Regions from separate parts of the Homo sapiens genome. Here region 1 is linked to region 2. Evidence: fine-mapped expression QTL. A gene starts in region 2. The other region holds a variant in brackets. All regions are shown on one strand. Distances are from middle to middle.

Region 1 (4,381 bases), 28 kb after region 2:
ATAAAATAAAATAAGCATTGGATTGCATTTTTTAGGCTGTGTCTTTGTGATACCTTACCCTGTTTTAACCGGAGTGACTGTCTCCTAGCAGAGAGAGCTGGACAGACTCCATTTTGGTTTCTTCACTTGGGGCCCCCCGTATCCCCCTTAAGGGAATAACTAGTGCAAGCTGACACCAAGCACATCCAGGAATGCACCTGCTGATAAGATATTGAGGCAGCCTGTATTAGCAGCTCCTGCTCGGTGGAAGGTACCTAAAAGCCCCTGCATTTATCTCTTAGTGATAGTTTAAGCCCCTGCACCTGGAACTGTTTATTTTTTGTAACTGCTTCCATAACCAATTAATTTTTTAACTTTTTGCCTGTTCTGCTTCTGTAAAACTACTTCAGTTAAACTCCCCCTCCTCTATTTAGACCATAGTATAAAAGAGAATCTAGCCCCTTCTTCGAGATGGAGAGAATTCTAAGCGCTAGCTGTCTCTCAGTCGCTGGCTAATAAAGGACTCCATAATTTGTCTCAAAGTGTGGCATTTCTCTCTAACTCGCTTGGTTACAACATCTTGTCTTTCTGGTGACACCTGTTGACATGATGTGCCTTAGAGTCAGTGAAATGTTACTGCTGAGGCCGCAGCATTCTCCCGAGGGAATAAAGCCATGTGCAGCATAACGAGGTTTCTGTCAATGACAGACTGCACGTCCGACGGTGGCCCCACCGATTATAATGGAGCTAAGACTGCAATTGCCCGGTGATGTTGTCGCTGTCCTAATGGAGTAGCTCAAGGCGTTACTCTAATGTTTGTGCCGATGCTGGTGTACACAGACCTACTTGACTGCCAGTCATAGAAAAGCATAGCACATATAATTGTGTACAGTACATCATACCTGTCAATGGCAACGGGCAGGACATGGTGGCTCGCACCTGTAATCCCAGCACTTTGGGAGGCTGAAGTAGGGCAATCGCTCGAGGCCAGAAGTTCGAGACCAGCCCATGCAACATAGTGAGACCCTGTCTCTACAAAAAAGAAAAAAAAGTCAATAAACAACTATGTTACTGGTGTATATATTTACTATATATAGGTTTCTTTGTTTGTTTTTTGAGATGGAGTCTCGTTCTGTCACCCAGGCTGGCTCACTGCAACCTCTGCCTCCCCAGTTCAAGTGATTCTCCTGCCTCAGCCTCCTGAGTAGCTGGGATTATAGGCATGCACCACCATGCCCGAATACTTTTTGTATTTTTAGTAGAGATGGGGTTTCACTATGTTGGCCAGGCTGGTCTCGAACTCCTGACCTCAAGTGATCCACCCACTTTGGCCTCCCAAAGTGCTGGGAAACAGGTATGAGCCACCACGGCCGGCCTTTATTCACCGTACTATAGTTTTTATTGTTATTTTAGAGTGTACTCCTTTTACTTATAAAGAAAAGTTAACTGCTTGAGTCTAAGAGTTCGAGACCAGCCTGGGCAATATAGTGAGACTTAGTCTCTGCAAAAAAGAAAAAAATGTAAAAATTAGCCCAGTGTGGTGGTGTGTGCCTTAGTTCCCGCTACTCAGGAGGCTGAGGTGGGAGGATCGTTTGAGCCTGAGAGGCATAAGCTGCAGTGAGCTGAGACTGTGCCACTGCATTCCCGCCTGGGTAACAGAGTGGGACCTTGCCTCAAAAAAAAAAAAAAGGAAAGGGAAAAATTAACTGTCAAAACAGCCTCAGGCAGCTCCTTC[A/G]GAAGGTGTCCAGAAAAAAGCACTGTTATCCTAGGAGACGACAGCTCCAAGGGTGTTATTGCCCCTGAAGATCTTCCAGTGGGATAAGACGTGGAGATGGAAGACAGTGACGTTGATGATCCTGACCCTGCATAGGCCTAGGCTGATGTGTGTGTGTTTGTGTCTTACATTTTTTCTTTTTCTGAGATGGAGTCTTGCTCTGTCACCCAGGCAGGAGTGTAATGGTGTGATCTCGGCTCACTGCAATCTCTGCCTCCTGGGTTGAAGTGATTCTTTTGCCTTAGCCTTCCCAGTAGCTGGAATTACAGCACTTTGGGAGGCCGAGGTGGACGGATCACTGGAGGTCAGGCGTTTTGAGACCAGCCTGGCCAACATGGTGAAAACCCATCTCTACTAAAAATACAAAAATTATCCAGGTGTGGTGGTGCATGCCTGTAATCCCAGCTACTTGGGAGGCTGTGGCAGAAGAATCGCTTGAACCTGGGAGGCGGAGGTTGCAGTGAGTTGAGATTGTGCCATTGCAAATCAGTGTGGGTGACAGAGTGGGACTCCGTCTCAAAAAATAAATAGATGGTCGCATTTGGGCTATGGCCTAGACCCCTGTGCTAGATCATCTGGCACAGGTGTGTAGCAGACTCTCCCACCTAGGTTTGTGTAAGCACACTCTATGATATCTATACAATGATGAAATCACCTAAGGATACATCTCTCAGAATTTATTCCTGATGTTAATCGAAGCAGGACTATAGCAGTATTAATAACGAGACCTAACAATGCTTGAGCACCTACTATGTGCCAAGAAGTTTTTTTTGTTTTGTTCTGTTTTTGTTTTTGATGAATCTCACTCTGTTGCCCAGGCTGGAGTGCAGTAGCTCAATCTCGACCGGCTGCAACCTCCACCTCTGAGGTTCAAGCAATTCGCCTGCCTCAGCCTCCGAAGTAGCTGGGATTACAGGCACCCACCCTGATGTCTGGCTAATTTTTGTATTTTTAGTAGAGACAGGGTTTCGCCATGTTGGCCAGGCTGGTCTTGAACTCCTTGTCTCAGGTAATCCACCCGCCTTGGCCTCCCAAAGTGCTGGGATCACAGGCGTGAGCCACCGAGCCCGGCCGCAAGAAGTTTTAAGTGTTTTGTATCTCTTAACAAATTTCATTAGCACAAAGAGGGCAGAGGAGAATTGGAATGGCCTTGCGGAAAGACCTCCCTGGCACCCGCCTCCTCCTTATGCCCCAAGCCTGCAGCCCCTGGGGCCTATTATTAGGGCCCACATCTGGTGACATTTCCCGGACTGATAGCGATCTCTGAAGCTCTTGCTCAAGGTTCTTTCCTGGACGTTTATCTGCTCCAAAACTCACAGCTAGCTTCCTGCCATCAGCCCCCTACCTTTAACGTGGGCTCAAGGCTGGCGGCCACCTGGGACTGACGACAGAGACAGAAAGAGCCCCCTCACCTTGCCTCACCCTCAGACACAGCACAAGGTGACGGGACCGGGATTCGTTGCGGGGTGTGTCTCAGGGAGCCAGGAGGTAGGAGCTTGGGGATTAGGAGAGTTGAAGGGCACTCTCCAGGGTATACAAAAAGGAGGTAGTGGGCTGGGCACAGTGGCTCACCCCTGTAATCCTAGCACTTAGGGAGGCCGAGGCAGGTGGATCACCTGAGGTCAAGAGTTGGAGACCACCCTGGCCAACATAGTGAATCCCCATCTCTACTAAAAATACAAAAACCAGCCGGGTGTGGTGGCAGCTGCCTGTAATCCCAGCTACTTAGGAGGCTGAGGCAGGAGAATTGCTTGAACCCAGGAGACAGAGGTTGCAGTGAGCTGAGATCGTGCCATTGCACTCCGGCCTAGGCAATAGAGTGAGACTCCATCTCAAAAGAAAAAAAAAAAAAGAGGTGGCAAAAAGGGGCTGAAAGTTCTGGGCCACCTCCTCTGGGTGAGGAATGTTCTCATGCCATATGCGTGAACTGTGCCTGGTCAGAGGTATTTGACTGTCTTCATCACTGCGGTACCCCCAGCGCTTAGGATAGTGTCTGGTGTACAATTTGGGCTCAATGCATAATTTTACACTAAATGAATGAATCCATCCTCAGATGACAAAGGAGAGATTGCCCTCCTTAATGGATCACTCATCGATTATTTACCAAGTGCCTGCTGTGTTCCAGGGGCCAGGAGCAAGCCACACACCAGCCTCGCCTCTAGGGAACTCAGAGATGAATAATGCAGATGGGTGATCACCAAATGATCCAACAAACGCGGTCTAATTGCTGCTGCCTGTAACCAGCTCTTTTTTTGTGGGGGCTCGGGGGGAACGGGGGGACAACAGAGTCTTGCTCTATCACCCAGGCTGGAGTGCAGTGGCATGATCACAGTTCTCTCCAAACTCCGCCTCCCGGGTTCAAGCGATTCTCCTGCCTCAGCCTCCCAAGTAGCTGAGATTACAGGCATGCACCACCACACCCAGCTAATTTTTGTATCTTTAGTAGAGATGGGGGTCTCACCATGTTGGCCAGGCTGGTCTCAAACTCCTGACCTCATGCGATCCTCCCACCTTAGCTTCCCAAAGTACTGGTATTACAGGTGTGAGCCACCGTTCCCAGCCTGTAATCATCTCTTCATGGGAGAGAAGCTCCTATAGGAGGGTCTGATTGAAAAGGGCAGGAAAAAC
Region 2 (4,381 bases):
ACACTGGTGACCTCCAGCAGGCTATGCTGTTTCAGAGCCTCGGTCTCCTCCTTTGAAGAGCAGGCCCAGTGATCCTTGGCTGGTGTGCCCCATGCTTGTTGGCACCACCAGCCAGGCCTGGGCGGGAAAAGCCCTGCATGACTCATGGGCCTGACATAGAGGGGCATGGCATGGCATTGTTCTTCCTTGCCTCCAAGCCTCTCTCCCACTGCCCTCACCACCTCTACCTACCCTGCCACCACCACCCTGGGAACTTGGGTGCCAGCAAACCAAAGAGGTGAAGCTTCCAGGCCTTTGACCCCACCAGGAACGGCTACCCTCTCGCCCACTCAACAGGTTGATTGAACACCTACTATGTGCTAGGTAGGCCTTGTGCTAGGAGATGCATCAGTGCATAAAAATCCCTGCTTTCATTGGCAGGGAACAGACATAAACAAACAAGATCATGCCAGTCTTGATTATACCAAAAAGATGAAATGGGGCATTTTAATAAAGTAACTTGCGGAATAGATAAGGTGGTTGGGGAAGACCTCCTGGAGCTGAGACCTCGATGATGAGAAGGAGCTGGGGAAAGAGGCTTCTAGAAGGAGGAAAGGGCTAGTGCAAATGCTCTGAGGTTGTAATCAGCTTAGTATTTGGGGATGAGCCAAGAGGCCAGGGAAGGTGGAGGCTGGGGGTGGGTGAAGGGAATGGGGGTGATGAGGCTGCAGAGGTGCAAAGGGTTCTTCCTTCCCAGCCCCCAGCATGGTAGGCTGCGCTGAGGACTGAGGCCCGGGCTTGGCTTCCCTCCTGCTTATGATGGGAAGGTGGGGGAGCAGGGGAGTGGGGAGTGATGTGATCTGATTTATGGTTTGGAAGGATTGCTTTGGCTGCGGCAAGCAGCCGGGATTGGAGGGGCTCAGGAGGAAGGAGGGGGAGGGCGAGACTGCAGTGGTCCAGGCTGAAATGAGGTGGCTTGCTGAATGCTCAGAGCTCCTTGAGCACACAACCTAGCGTCTGTCGATTTCACCTCCTGGAGAAACCTTCCCTGACTGCTCCGCCAGACTCCTCACCCTCTCCCATCTCCAGCCCCCTCATCCCCGGAGCTATCTGGCTGCTGGTCTGCAAGCAGCTGGAGTCCCCAGCATCACCCAGCCCACAGCCTGGCCTGCAGGAGGCTTCTAGTAAAGTGGCCAATTAATCCCCGAGCCCCGTCTTCCAGGGTCATGCACACAGTCACACGCGTGCTCTTCACATGTGTCACCCTGCCCCCACACACACTCACTTGGATCTCCAGACAAGGGCTTGGAGGGTAGGATGGGCAATCTAGGGGGCAGGAGGGGCCCTGGAGTCTCCTCCATTGAGTGTGCAGGCGATGGTGGCCACAGGGTAATAACAACCTCAGCGAGACCCTGAGGTCTGCCCCTCCTTAGGAATGGCCAGGCAGGGAAGAAGGGAGCAGTGCTCGGTCCCAGCATCCCACCACTGCCGAGATGGTTCTGAGCGGGTTCCTGGGCTGAGGCCGGGGCCTGTGTTTTCCAAGATTCCTTGGAGAGCCAGCTCCATCCTCTTCCTGATTATCTGATCTTTGGGCTACAGCAGAAGGAAAGAGCAGGGCGGAAGCGAGCTCTGGAAAGTGGAAAGAGGAGGGTGTGCGAGGAGACCCAAGGCGGGATCTAGGCTTTGGAACGTTGGAGGTTTCCGGCCACAGAGGCAGGGCCTCCGGGGAGCCAAGAGGGGCGGGGAGAGACACACACAGAGAAGCAGAGGAGACCAACGGACCGGACAGAGACGAGGAGAGGAACAGGAAGAGAGAAGCTGGGAGAATCGGGAACCTGGGGGCTAGTGACCTGCACACAGGGCAGGGGCACTCGGCAGTTCCCAGAGGCCACCCCTCCCACCCCAGACATCCAGACATCTGGAACTTTGGGTGCCAAGAGTCCAGCTTAATGCAGGCAGCCTGGCTTTTGGGGGCTTTGGTGGTCCCCCAGCTCTTGGGCTTTGGCCATGGGGCTCGGGGAGCAGAGAGGGAGTGGGAGGGAGGCTGGGGAGGTGCCCAGGAGGAGGAGCGGGAGAGGGAGGCCCTGATGCTGAAGGTGAGCTCTGGAGTGTCAGGGAGCTATGGGTGGTGAACTGTGGGTCTGGGAGGGGGTATTGCAAGGTTAGGGAAATGGACAATGAGGAGCGATTGGGATAGTCTCAGAGGAGTGGGAGGGTGATGGGCTCAGAGACAGGACTCAGGCAGCAGAGAATGAGTTATGAGTTGGAAAGGGGTGAATGGGGCATCTTGGTGGCAGGCTGGGGCTCACCACCCCTCCCCTGCCCCAGCATCTGCAGGAAGCCCTAGGACTGCCTGCTGGGAGGGGGGATGAGAATCCTGCCGGAACTGTTGAGGGAAAAGAGGACTGGGAGATGGAGGAGGACCAGGGGGAGGAAGAGGAGGAGGAAGCAACGCCAACCCCATCCTCCGGCCCCAGCCCCTCTCCCACCCCTGAGGACATCGTCACTTACATCCGTGAGTAACCAGAAGCCCTCACCCCCAAACTCCTAGGCCGCCGCGGTCACTTTCGCAAAAATGAAGGGTCGGTTCACTGCCAAGTGGCCTTTCAGTTGTCCATTGCCCAGCCCAGAGCCCCCACACCCCTAGGAGCCCCAGGTCCACGGCCATGCCTCCTAAAGGCCTGGGCCACTCGACCCTACCTTCCAGGAGTCCGGGGTGCCCCCCCCACCGCCACCCCGCCCTCAGGAGCCCTAGATCCCAGTTCTCCAGGTCCTCAGGCCCCCCGCTGCATCTCCAGGCTCCCCCTCCAGCATGATCCCTGTCTGTCCGCAGTGGGCCGCCTGGCCGGCCTGGACGCAGGCCTGCACCAGCTGCACGTCCGTCTGCACGCGTTGGACACCCGCGTGGTCGAGCTGACCCAGGGGCTGCGGCAGCTGCGGAACGCGGCAGGCGACACCCGCGATGCCGTGCAAGCCCTGCAGGAGGCGCAGGGTCGCGCCGAGCGCGAGCACGGCCGCTTGGAGGGTGAGTCCGCGGCGCGCGGGGTGGAAAAAAATGAGACTATCTGGGCCAGGAATGGGACTGGTTGAGAAGGTGACCCTAGGTGTCCGGGGCGGGAGAGTTCGGGAGAGCTGCTGTGTGCTAGCGGACGGGGTTAGAGAGCTGGGAGGCTGAATGCAGGGAGCGGGTGGGCACTCCAGACCCGCGCGGACCCGACTGGGGCAGCACCACGCCCCCTACAGTCCAGCTCCCACCGCCTGGCCCCGCCCCTGGCGGACCAGACTCTCCACCTCCTGGCTCCCGCGGTTCTGACCACGCCTCCTCCCAGCCCTCCCCATGAGTTCCTGGCCCCGCCTCCCTCCACCCCCGGATGTTTTGTCCTCGCCCCCTTCCAGACTCTGAATGCATGACCCCGCCTCCTTCTCTACCCGGCCCCGCCCACAGGCTGCCTGAAGGGGCTGCGCCTGGGCCACAAGTGCTTCCTGCTCTCGCGCGACTTCGAAGCTCAGGCGGCGGCGCAGGCGCGGTGCACGGCGCGGGGCGGGAGCCTGGCGCAGCCGGCAGACCGCCAGCAGATGGAGGCGCTCACTCGGTACCTGCGCGCGGCGCTCGCTCCCTACAACTGGCCCGTGTGGCTGGGCGTGCACGATCGGCGCGCCGAGGGCCTCTACCTCTTCGAAAACGGCCAGCGCGTGTCCTTCTTCGCCTGGCATCGCTCACCCCGCCCCGAGCTCGGCGCCCAGCCCAGCGCCTCGCCGCATCCGCTCAGCCCGGACCAGCCCAACGGTGGCACGCTCGAGAACTGCGTGGCGCAGGCCTCTGACGACGGCTCCTGGTGGGACCACGACTGCCAGCGGCGTCTCTACTACGTCTGCGAGTTCCCCTTCTAGCGGGGCCGGTACCCCGCCTCCCTGCCCATCCCACCACCCGGCCTTTCCCTGCGCCGTGCCCACCCTCCTCCGGAATCTCCCTTCCCTTCCTGGCCACGAATGGCAGCGTCCTCCCCGACCCCCAGTCTGGGCGCTTCTGGGAGGGCTCTTGCGGTGCCGGCACTCCTCCTTGTTAGTGTCTTTCCTTGAAGGGGCGGGCACCAGGCTAGGTCCGGTGCCAATAAATCCTTGTGGAATCTGACTTGAGGGGCAGTGAAGGCAGTCTTGGACTTTATCTCCTGCAGGGGAAGCCGGGAAGGGCCAGACCCTGGTCTTTGGGCGCGTGTCCTGGCCTTTGGATGCCTGTTCTGCTTTTTACAGATGTCATTTGAGCCCCAGATGGAGTGATGGAGAAACACAGGTGCATATGTACACACGGTCATCTGTTCTGTGCACAGATGGCCGGAGTACACGCGTACAAACGCTGTAGACACCTTCACCTCCATCGTGCCCTCTCTCTCGGCCTTTGGGA

Evidence for each region. PIP is the estimated chance that this variant, and not a neighbour inherited with it, causes the effect.
Region 1: its variant is fine-mapped to the expression of CLEC11A in whole blood (TOPMed, PIP 0.97).

The regions. Positions count from the first base shown.
Region 1 is chr19:50,749,579-50,753,959 of GRCh38, forward strand. No RefSeq gene overlaps it. Among named protein-coding and RNA genes, the nearest start is that of GPR32, 19 kb to the right of the region's middle. The variant A/G (reference allele first, on the strand shown) is at 1,715.
Region 2 is chr19:50,721,598-50,725,978 of GRCh38, forward strand. It overlaps CLEC11A (C-type lectin domain containing 11A), which reads left to right and starts at 1,767. Exons shown (of 4, transcript NM_002975.3): 1 at 1,767-2,075; 2 at 2,308-2,494; 3 at 2,813-3,004; 4 at 3,425-4,111. The coding sequence starts at 1,929. The coding sequence ends at 3,870. RefSeq lists silencers at 3,116-3,235, 3,276-3,335.